2 linked regions of the Homo sapiens genome follow. The protein of the gene in region 1 interacts with the protein of each later gene in a pairwise test. Each region holds a gene or a part of one and is shown on either strand. Other genes may lie near its edges.

Evidence for each region.
Region 2: the proteins of LRP10 (region 1) and SLC14A2 interact in binary tests that used the Homo sapiens proteins (3 or more experiments, as listed by UniProt).

What each region holds. Positions count from the first base shown.
Region 1 is NC_000014.9:22,878,132-22,881,948, forward strand, and holds the end of LRP10 (low-density lipoprotein receptor-related protein 10 isoform 1 precursor), read left to right. Parts: 3' UTR 1-1,067; coding exon of another isoform or gene 1,068-1,070; 3' UTR 1,071-3,582; downstream 3,583-3,817. UniProt on the Homo sapiens protein: Probable receptor, which is involved in the internalization of lipophilic molecules and/or signal transduction. May be involved in the uptake of lipoprotein APOE in liver.
Region 2 is NC_000018.10:45,639,472-45,643,288, forward strand, and holds part of SLC14A2 (urea transporter 2), read left to right. Parts: intron 1-274; coding exon 275-422; intron 423-1,737; coding exon 1,738-1,872; intron 1,873-3,660; coding exon 3,661-3,710; intron 3,711-3,817.

The sequences.
Region 1 (3,817 bases):
TCTATGCTCACCTCATCCCACTCCTCCCTGTGGAGCCCTTTGCTTGGCCCTCTACCTCCTGCCCTCTTCCTGTTCATCTCCCAACCACTGCACTCTTGATTTTTATACCACACAGAAGGTAAGAAAATTCTAGGAACCCTAAGGATCAATCCTCTCCATTTTCACTCAAATGCCTGGGGCCCAGCTCTGCAATGACTGACTCCAGGGCCTCTTTCCTCACTGCCAGCATAGAAGTCAGGGGAGCCAGCTGGGCCCTGCGGTCAGGAAGGTTCTCATTTTTGGAGCATACCCTGAGCCCAGATCATAGGAGCAGCTGTCCCTGGTGGGACACAGGAGTCATGACTCCTACCCTCCACCCTCCACACCCACCAGGCATTTAGCAGTCTGTCCTATGCAAGACAGATGAATTCTCAGCCAGGATACCTCAAGGCAGGCAAAGGTGAGTGGAGGGAGAATTCACAAACATTCAGGGTGTGTGGTGCTGGCATCACCATGGCCAAATCCAAGAGGTCTTCCTGGAAGAGGGCCCAAACTGGAACCAAAAGAATGCTGTCAGCAGTTGGAATAGAGCTGTGAATTCTAGACAGGGGGAGTGTCCCCAGAACAAGCAAACGGAGGAGACAAGAGGGCAAGGGTTATAGGAAAGACCCTGGGCCTGAGAGCACAAGCAGCGGCCAGAGCTGCAGCGCTGGGGTGGGTGATGGAGGGAATGATTCGCAAGCAGTGTTGGAACCCAGCCCCTAGTGAGCAAAGTGACAGAAGCTGCCCCAGAGTTTGGAAGGAAGATCGAGGCAGAAGATGTAGAAGGAAGCTGTGGGGGTGGGAGTGATGCCTCAGGAACAAAACTGAGGAATTCCCTAACGGACCCAGTCCCTGGGGAAAGAGGCTCCCCTCAGGCTCTCCTTGTCTAGCCCCACACCTGGCAGAGCCTGTCACCCAGCCTAGCCCCACGCCTGGCAGAGCCCATCACCCAGCCTAGCCCCACACCTGGTGGAGAGGCCCTGTTGATTACACCCTGTCAGCCTCCTCAAACCCAGCACTAATTGCACAATTTTCCTCTCTTCTAGTGAGCAAGAGCCTGAGGAAGTAGCAGAGAGGGGTGTGGGCCCATGTGCAGTTCTGGGACCCTGGCACCTTGGCTCAGGGAAGACCCGAGCTCCTTTCACTGCAGACCCTCTCCAGAGACTGGGGAGAGGGCTCTGGAGAACCTGGTTCTTGCTTACTGTTCTCCCTTTGGGCCCTCCTTCCCAAACGCAAACAATCCAGGATCCACTCAGCGTCAGGCCCAATGGAAATAGTGAAGCAGTGATTTTCCCTCCCCTGCCTCTCCATAGCCTGGTCTTTTGCCCTCTCCTTTGCTCTTCTCTTCCCCCATAGCCACCTCAAATACCTGCAGCCTGATATCTTCATCCCTTCATCCAGACCTTTTCTCTCCTAGTGGTATTGCAAACTGAAAGTGGACAAAGACTTAAGGTAAACCTGCTCCTCATGGTGGAATGCTTCCAAATGCTGGAAGGAGGACTTTAGGGCAGAGTTCACTAAGGAGGCTTGTGCTTATAGATCAGTGGGCCTGAAAGAAGTTTCTCTAGGTTCTGGTTGTGTGCTGTACGAGGTGTAGGTAGTAATAATACTCTTGTCAGCCACAGTGAAGCCCCAAGCTAGCCGGGATAGGGGACTGACCTTGTACAGGCAGCATGGAGAAACTAAGACAGAGTGTCCTGCCCAAGTGATGGCACTGGGGAGCAGTCACTCAGGTTTATTTCCACCAGGGCCCAAGAAAAAAAGAAATGAGGCAACCTAAAATTCCATCAAGATAGATACCAATATCCAAGGTGCTTGGTCTTAGCGGTGTGGGACCCACGTTAAGGCTCTTGGTGGGAAGGTGGGAGGTGTTTTCAGCATGAGATAGGGTTCAGGCTGTGAATCAGAGTCTAGAGCCTAAGATAAAAGAAGATACCAGGGCTGGGCCACGGTGGCTTTCGCCTGTAATCCTAGCACTTTGGGAGGCCAAGGCAGGCAGACTGCCTGAGCTCAGGAGTTCGAGACTAGCCTGAGCAACACGGTGAAACCCTGTCTCTACTAAAATACAAAAAAGTAGCCAGGTGTGGCGGCATGCACCTGTAGTCCCAGCTACTCGAGAGGCTGAGGCAGGAGAATTGCTTGAACCCGGGAGGCGGAGGTTGCAGTGAGTGGAGATCGCGCCACTGCACTCTAGCCTGGGTGACAGAGCGAGACTCCTTCTCCAAAAAAAAAGAAAAGAAGATACCAGAACTCAGTCCTTAAGAAACAAAATTCTGCCAGGCGCAGTAGCTCACACCTGTAATCCCAGCACTTTGGAGGGGCCAAGGCAGGCGGATCGCTTGAGGCCAAGAGTTCAAGAACAGCCTGGGCAACATGATGAAACCCTGTCTCTACCAAAAATACTAAAAATTAGCCAGTCTCACAACCTGGTCTCAAAATAAATAAATAGATTTAAAAAAAAAATCATGGGCCTGAACCAAGCTCCAGACCTCACTAGGAGGGGAGAAGGACCCCCCAGCCACACAGCCCAAGGCTGCAGAAGCACCTAGGTGGTTAGAGAGTGAGTGCCTGGATGGGGCGCAGTGGCTCACACCTGTAATCCCAGCACTTTGGGAGGCCGAGGCAGGCGGATCACGAGGTCAAGAGATCAAGACCATCCTGGCCAACATGGTGACACCGTGTCTCTACTAAAAATACAAAAATAAGCTGGGCATGGTGGTGCGTGCCTGTAGTCCCATCTACTCGGGAGGCTGAAGCAGGAGAATCACTTGAACCTGGGAGGCAAAGGTTGCAGTGAGCTGAGATCGCGCCACTGCACTCCAGCCTGGCAACAGAGCGAGACAAGACTCCATCTCAAAAAAAAAAGTGAGTGCCCGATGATGCCAGATTCTTCATCACCTGAAGTGAACCCACACAACAGGGCTGGGCCATGGGCATCATAAACCCCATTTTGCAAGCTCAGGAGGAGCTTTAGGGAAATCAGAAGACTGGCCCAGTCTCTACCAAGTGGTGGATTTAGAGCCGGCATGGCTTCGTTCCAAATCTCACCCTTGTCCCACCATTCCATGGGACCTCCCATTCCTGAGGGAGCCTGGATACGGGCAAGTGCACAACCCGGGAGGTTGAGGTTACAGTGAGCCATGATCGCACCACTGCAGTCCAGCCCGAGCAATAGGGTGAGACCCTCCCTCTGAAAAAAATAAAAATACTCATTTTGGAAGGAAGTCATTCTAAAATGTTACACTTGTCTTCAGCATATCTGCAATATAATAATTTTCTGCATAACTGAGGATCATTCACAGAAACCAATGGCTTTTCTCCAGCAGTGTCTTCTGAAGTTGTAACAGTAGGGGCACGGGGAGCTATTTGCTTTTATGCTAAATGACCTTAGACCACTTATAAAATGCATATGAGTGCTTTAAATGTTATTTTGTGTGTGTGTGGTGTTGCCTCCCTGACTACAAGGGGTCACTTGCTACTCTAAATGTGTTTCTAATCTACTAGTACAGGAACACACATGGACACGTTAAAATTGTGAATAAAAGTAAGTAAAAAGTAAAAGTAAGTAGGCCATGACTGAGGACTGGAGAATCTACCCAGTGAGTAAAGCACAGGAGTATTTTAGCAGCTGAGGGGTCCTTTCTGCTCCCTCAAACCCTGCACTGTTGCCCTATAGCTGACCTCCAAATAAGTGAAGTGTCACTGCACATTGTTCCCAAGATTATTCTTTGCCTCTTCCATTGGAAGAGTCCACTGAGGATAGCAATATAGACTGTTCCCAATAATAGGAGACAGT
Region 2 (3,817 bases), on another chromosome or scaffold:
AGCAGAAGCCGTATGTTCCTCAGAAGCATCCATGCCCAGCCCATGTTGGGGGCCCTGGCTTTGCATGAGGGATGCTCACATGCCTGCTGGGTGGTAGAGTGAGGAGCTGTTTGTTCCAGCTCATGCCTCCCATGTTCTCTCACATGCTGGAGGGTACAGTCATCCTCCCGTTCCACTCCATTACTCCCCCGAGGAATGGCTCAAATCTGGCCCTGAGTCTGGTTTTTGCATTATTGTCCATGCTCCAGTGACCTGTATTCTGTTAACTTTGCAGCTGTTACAAGCCATCCCTGTTGGGGTCGGCCAGGTGTATGGCTGTGACAATCCCTGGACAGGCGGCGTGTTCCTGGTGGCTCTGTTCATCTCCTCGCCACTCATCTGCTTGCATGCAGCCATTGGCTCAATCGTGGGGCTGCTAGCAGGTAGGACAGAGCTCCCTCTCTTCAGGTCCTCAGGATAATTCACTCAAGGTCACTTTTCCCCTACATACAGCAAATCTTCCAGACATTCTCTTCCCTGCAGTTTTAAATACTTTCAGGGAGACAGGCACGGTGACTTATGCCTGTAATCCCAGCACTTTGGGAGGCCGAGGCACATAGATGACCTGAACTCAGGGTGAAAACCCATCTCTACTAAAGAAAAAAAAGTACAAAAATTAGCTGGGTGTGGTGGTGGGCACCCATAATCCCAGCTACTTGGGGAGCTGAGGCAGGAGAATCACTTGAACCCAGGAGGTGGAGGTTGCAATGAGCCAAGATCGTACCACCTCACTCCAGCCTGGGAAATAGAGTGAGACTCCGTCTTAAAAAAAAAAAAAATACATGTGGAGAGATGCAAGGGGGTAAGAACCAAGTTGGCCTGCAAACTGAGCCCCTGGAGCTGAGGATGCTGGAGAGACACAGGGGTAGGGGCGGGAGCAGTAACCAAGACCAACTGTGATAAAATAAATGGCCCAGCACTCTGAAATTTTTGGTAAGATACAAAGAAAATTGTTCTCAAACATTGGATTGCCACTTAACAAATGTGCTTTAATATTGCTACCTGTGTATATGTATGTATACACATTTAAATAGGTATTTGCTCTTTCTGACAACAGAGTCAGAGATTGGGGTAGGAGCATTGGGAGTAGGAACCTGTTTTAGACTTCTTCTAATATTTTTCAAAGATTTTTTTGGAAGCAAAACTTTAAAAAGTATTTTTTATTTGGAAATAGTTTTAAACTCATCAAAAAATGGTAAAAATAAAAATATGAGGCATCTGTAAATTCTTTCCCCAGATGTACCCACTGTTCACATCTTACTCCTTCTGCTGTATCATTCCTCTATCTACATATATCCATAAGTGTATAGGGATATTTTTCCAGAGCACTTGAAACAACTTTTAAAAATATTTGTTTAACTCTTCAAACCTTTTTGGAAACTTTCTTGCTAAGACTGCAGTTGCTGTAGTCAAAGCAGTAAGAAGGGGCCTAGAATCCCACCTCCTTGCCTCTTCTCACCCAGGAGGACCTCCAAGTGAAGCCTGTGGCTTTGACAACTGGTTTGGAAACCACTGTTCTCTTTTCATTGAAGGTCTCCTAAGACCGGATGCCATTTGTAGAGGCTCTTTTGATGGGCAGGTTTGGAGATGTGGGGTGAACAACAGCATGGAGGCCACTCTGAGACCTGGCACCAGTCCCAGGGTGGTCTTTGTTCTGTGGCCCAGAATCAGACAGAAATACCACACCTTGTCCCATAGCCCTGTCAGTGGCCACACCCTTCGAGACCATCTACACAGGCCTCTGGAGCTACAACTGCGTCCTCTCCTGCATCGCCATCGGAGGCATGTTCTATGCCCTCACCTGGCAGACTCACCTGCTGGCCCTCATCTGTGGTAGGTGTTCAGAAAAGCTGACAACCAGGTTATTCTGGCTATTCCTTCCCCCCTTGTTTATGTGAAACCCATGGGGACCACTAATCAATACTGTTCAGCAGTGACAGAAAGGCCAATGGCTTGCGTCCTAATGCCAGTGCTGCCCTTAACAGCTGGGGATTTCAGGTCCCTTTTCTGTCAAATGGGATCACAACCACCGAATGGTATTATACTTACACAGTGTTGTAAAGTTTATAAGGAAATCACATATGCATTTCCTTGTGTGCTAATGACAGCATTCCTGCTCTCTATAACTCTTCATTCAACAACTGTTTATACAACACCATCAAGTGCCAGGACCTAGTCTAGGTATAGAAGATACCATGGTGACTACATCCTCATGAAGCCACAGCCTAGCAGGAGAGAAGTAATTGCACAAATAATTACTAAGGCTGCAGCGTCCACAAAGGTTGTTGGAATGATCCAGTGAGGTGATGTACCAGGAGCACTAAAAATCATAACCACATTATGGAAGCTCGATTTCCATAAACAGAGAATATGCTGCCAGAAGGGAAATCAGCCATAGTCCTTCTCATACACCTGTATCCCAGCACCATACCCTGTTATATAAATATACAAACTCACTTAATCCCCCCAAGAATACCACCAGGCATAGCCTGCCTGGCCCATTTTACAGATGAGGAAATGAGGCTCAGAGGGGCTAATTAACTTGCCCTAGAAGATAGCTATTAATGGCAAAAGGGAGAGTCAATCCCAGCCCCAGCTTGCCACCAGCTCTCCTCTCCTGGTATTGTTCTCTGGAAGCAGGACAGGACATTAATAAATAAAACTAGAGTCAAGGAAACAGAAGACTAGCGTCTGGAACAGCTTCTCTTTTGTTTTTTCCCACTTATGCTTGGAGACTGAGAATGACTTCCATATCCCTTGTATCCCCTCAGCAGCCAACATGAGGCTGGGCATGGAGACAGTGGACCTAGTAAATATTTGTCAAGTTAAAAGTGCCTGTTATTTTGAGGTTCAGACCGTAACTGCTTTTGGCCTTCAGAGAAGTGGCAGATTCCTGTGGCTGGAATCATCTGGGAAGCCTACAGGGGGAGGCTAGGGTTTATCTCAACACTTCTAGTAGGATCTGAGTTGACAAAGAGAGAGGGAAGAGGTGTTCCGGACAGAGAAGGAGAAAGAGCAAAGCTGCAGGCAGAAGGAGTTTGTCCAGAGGCACCAGCTACATGGACGAGCTTTCCTGACTGTCCTCAGGACCCAGCTCCCATGGGGGAACCCAGCTGCCTGGCTCCTGGGGACTGGTTCAGGGGTCTAGTAAGGTTCAGCCCTGGTGAGACTTGGTGAACATCAAGCAGCATCACAGCTGCTCACAGTCTTGAATAGGAGGGACCTTGGCAGGAGCTCGTATAGTCTGACCACTCTTCCCCTACAACAATCATCCAGCCTGTACTAGCTCTTCGCTACCATCAGCGTAGACTAGCATATGATGTGTATTGACCCCTGACTCCATGCAAGGCCACTATGGAAGCAGGGAGGGGACAAAAGGAAATATATGTTTTAATCTCTGCCCGAAGAATGAACAGTCTGGTGGGAGACTGGCCTCACCTGTCTACAGAGATAACAAATGCCAGGCAAGCATGCCAGCTGTCAGGGCATGGTGCAGAATCTGAGGCTGCAGGAGAGAGGGTGGGGCTCCTGTTCTTGGTCTGGGCTCCCTGGTCTGCAATGGCAGTGGCTTAGGGGGAAGGCCCTGGGAAGCTCACTCTGGTGATCCTTGTTCCTCCACAGCCCTGTTCTGTGCATACATGGAAGCAGCCATCTCCAACATCATGTCAGTGGTAAGTGTGGATTCTCCTGAACACTACCCCAAAGTGCTCTTCCCAGAGCTTCTGGACATATGGGGTTGTGGGGTCTGGGAAAGGAACATTGAGCGGGTAATGGTAGC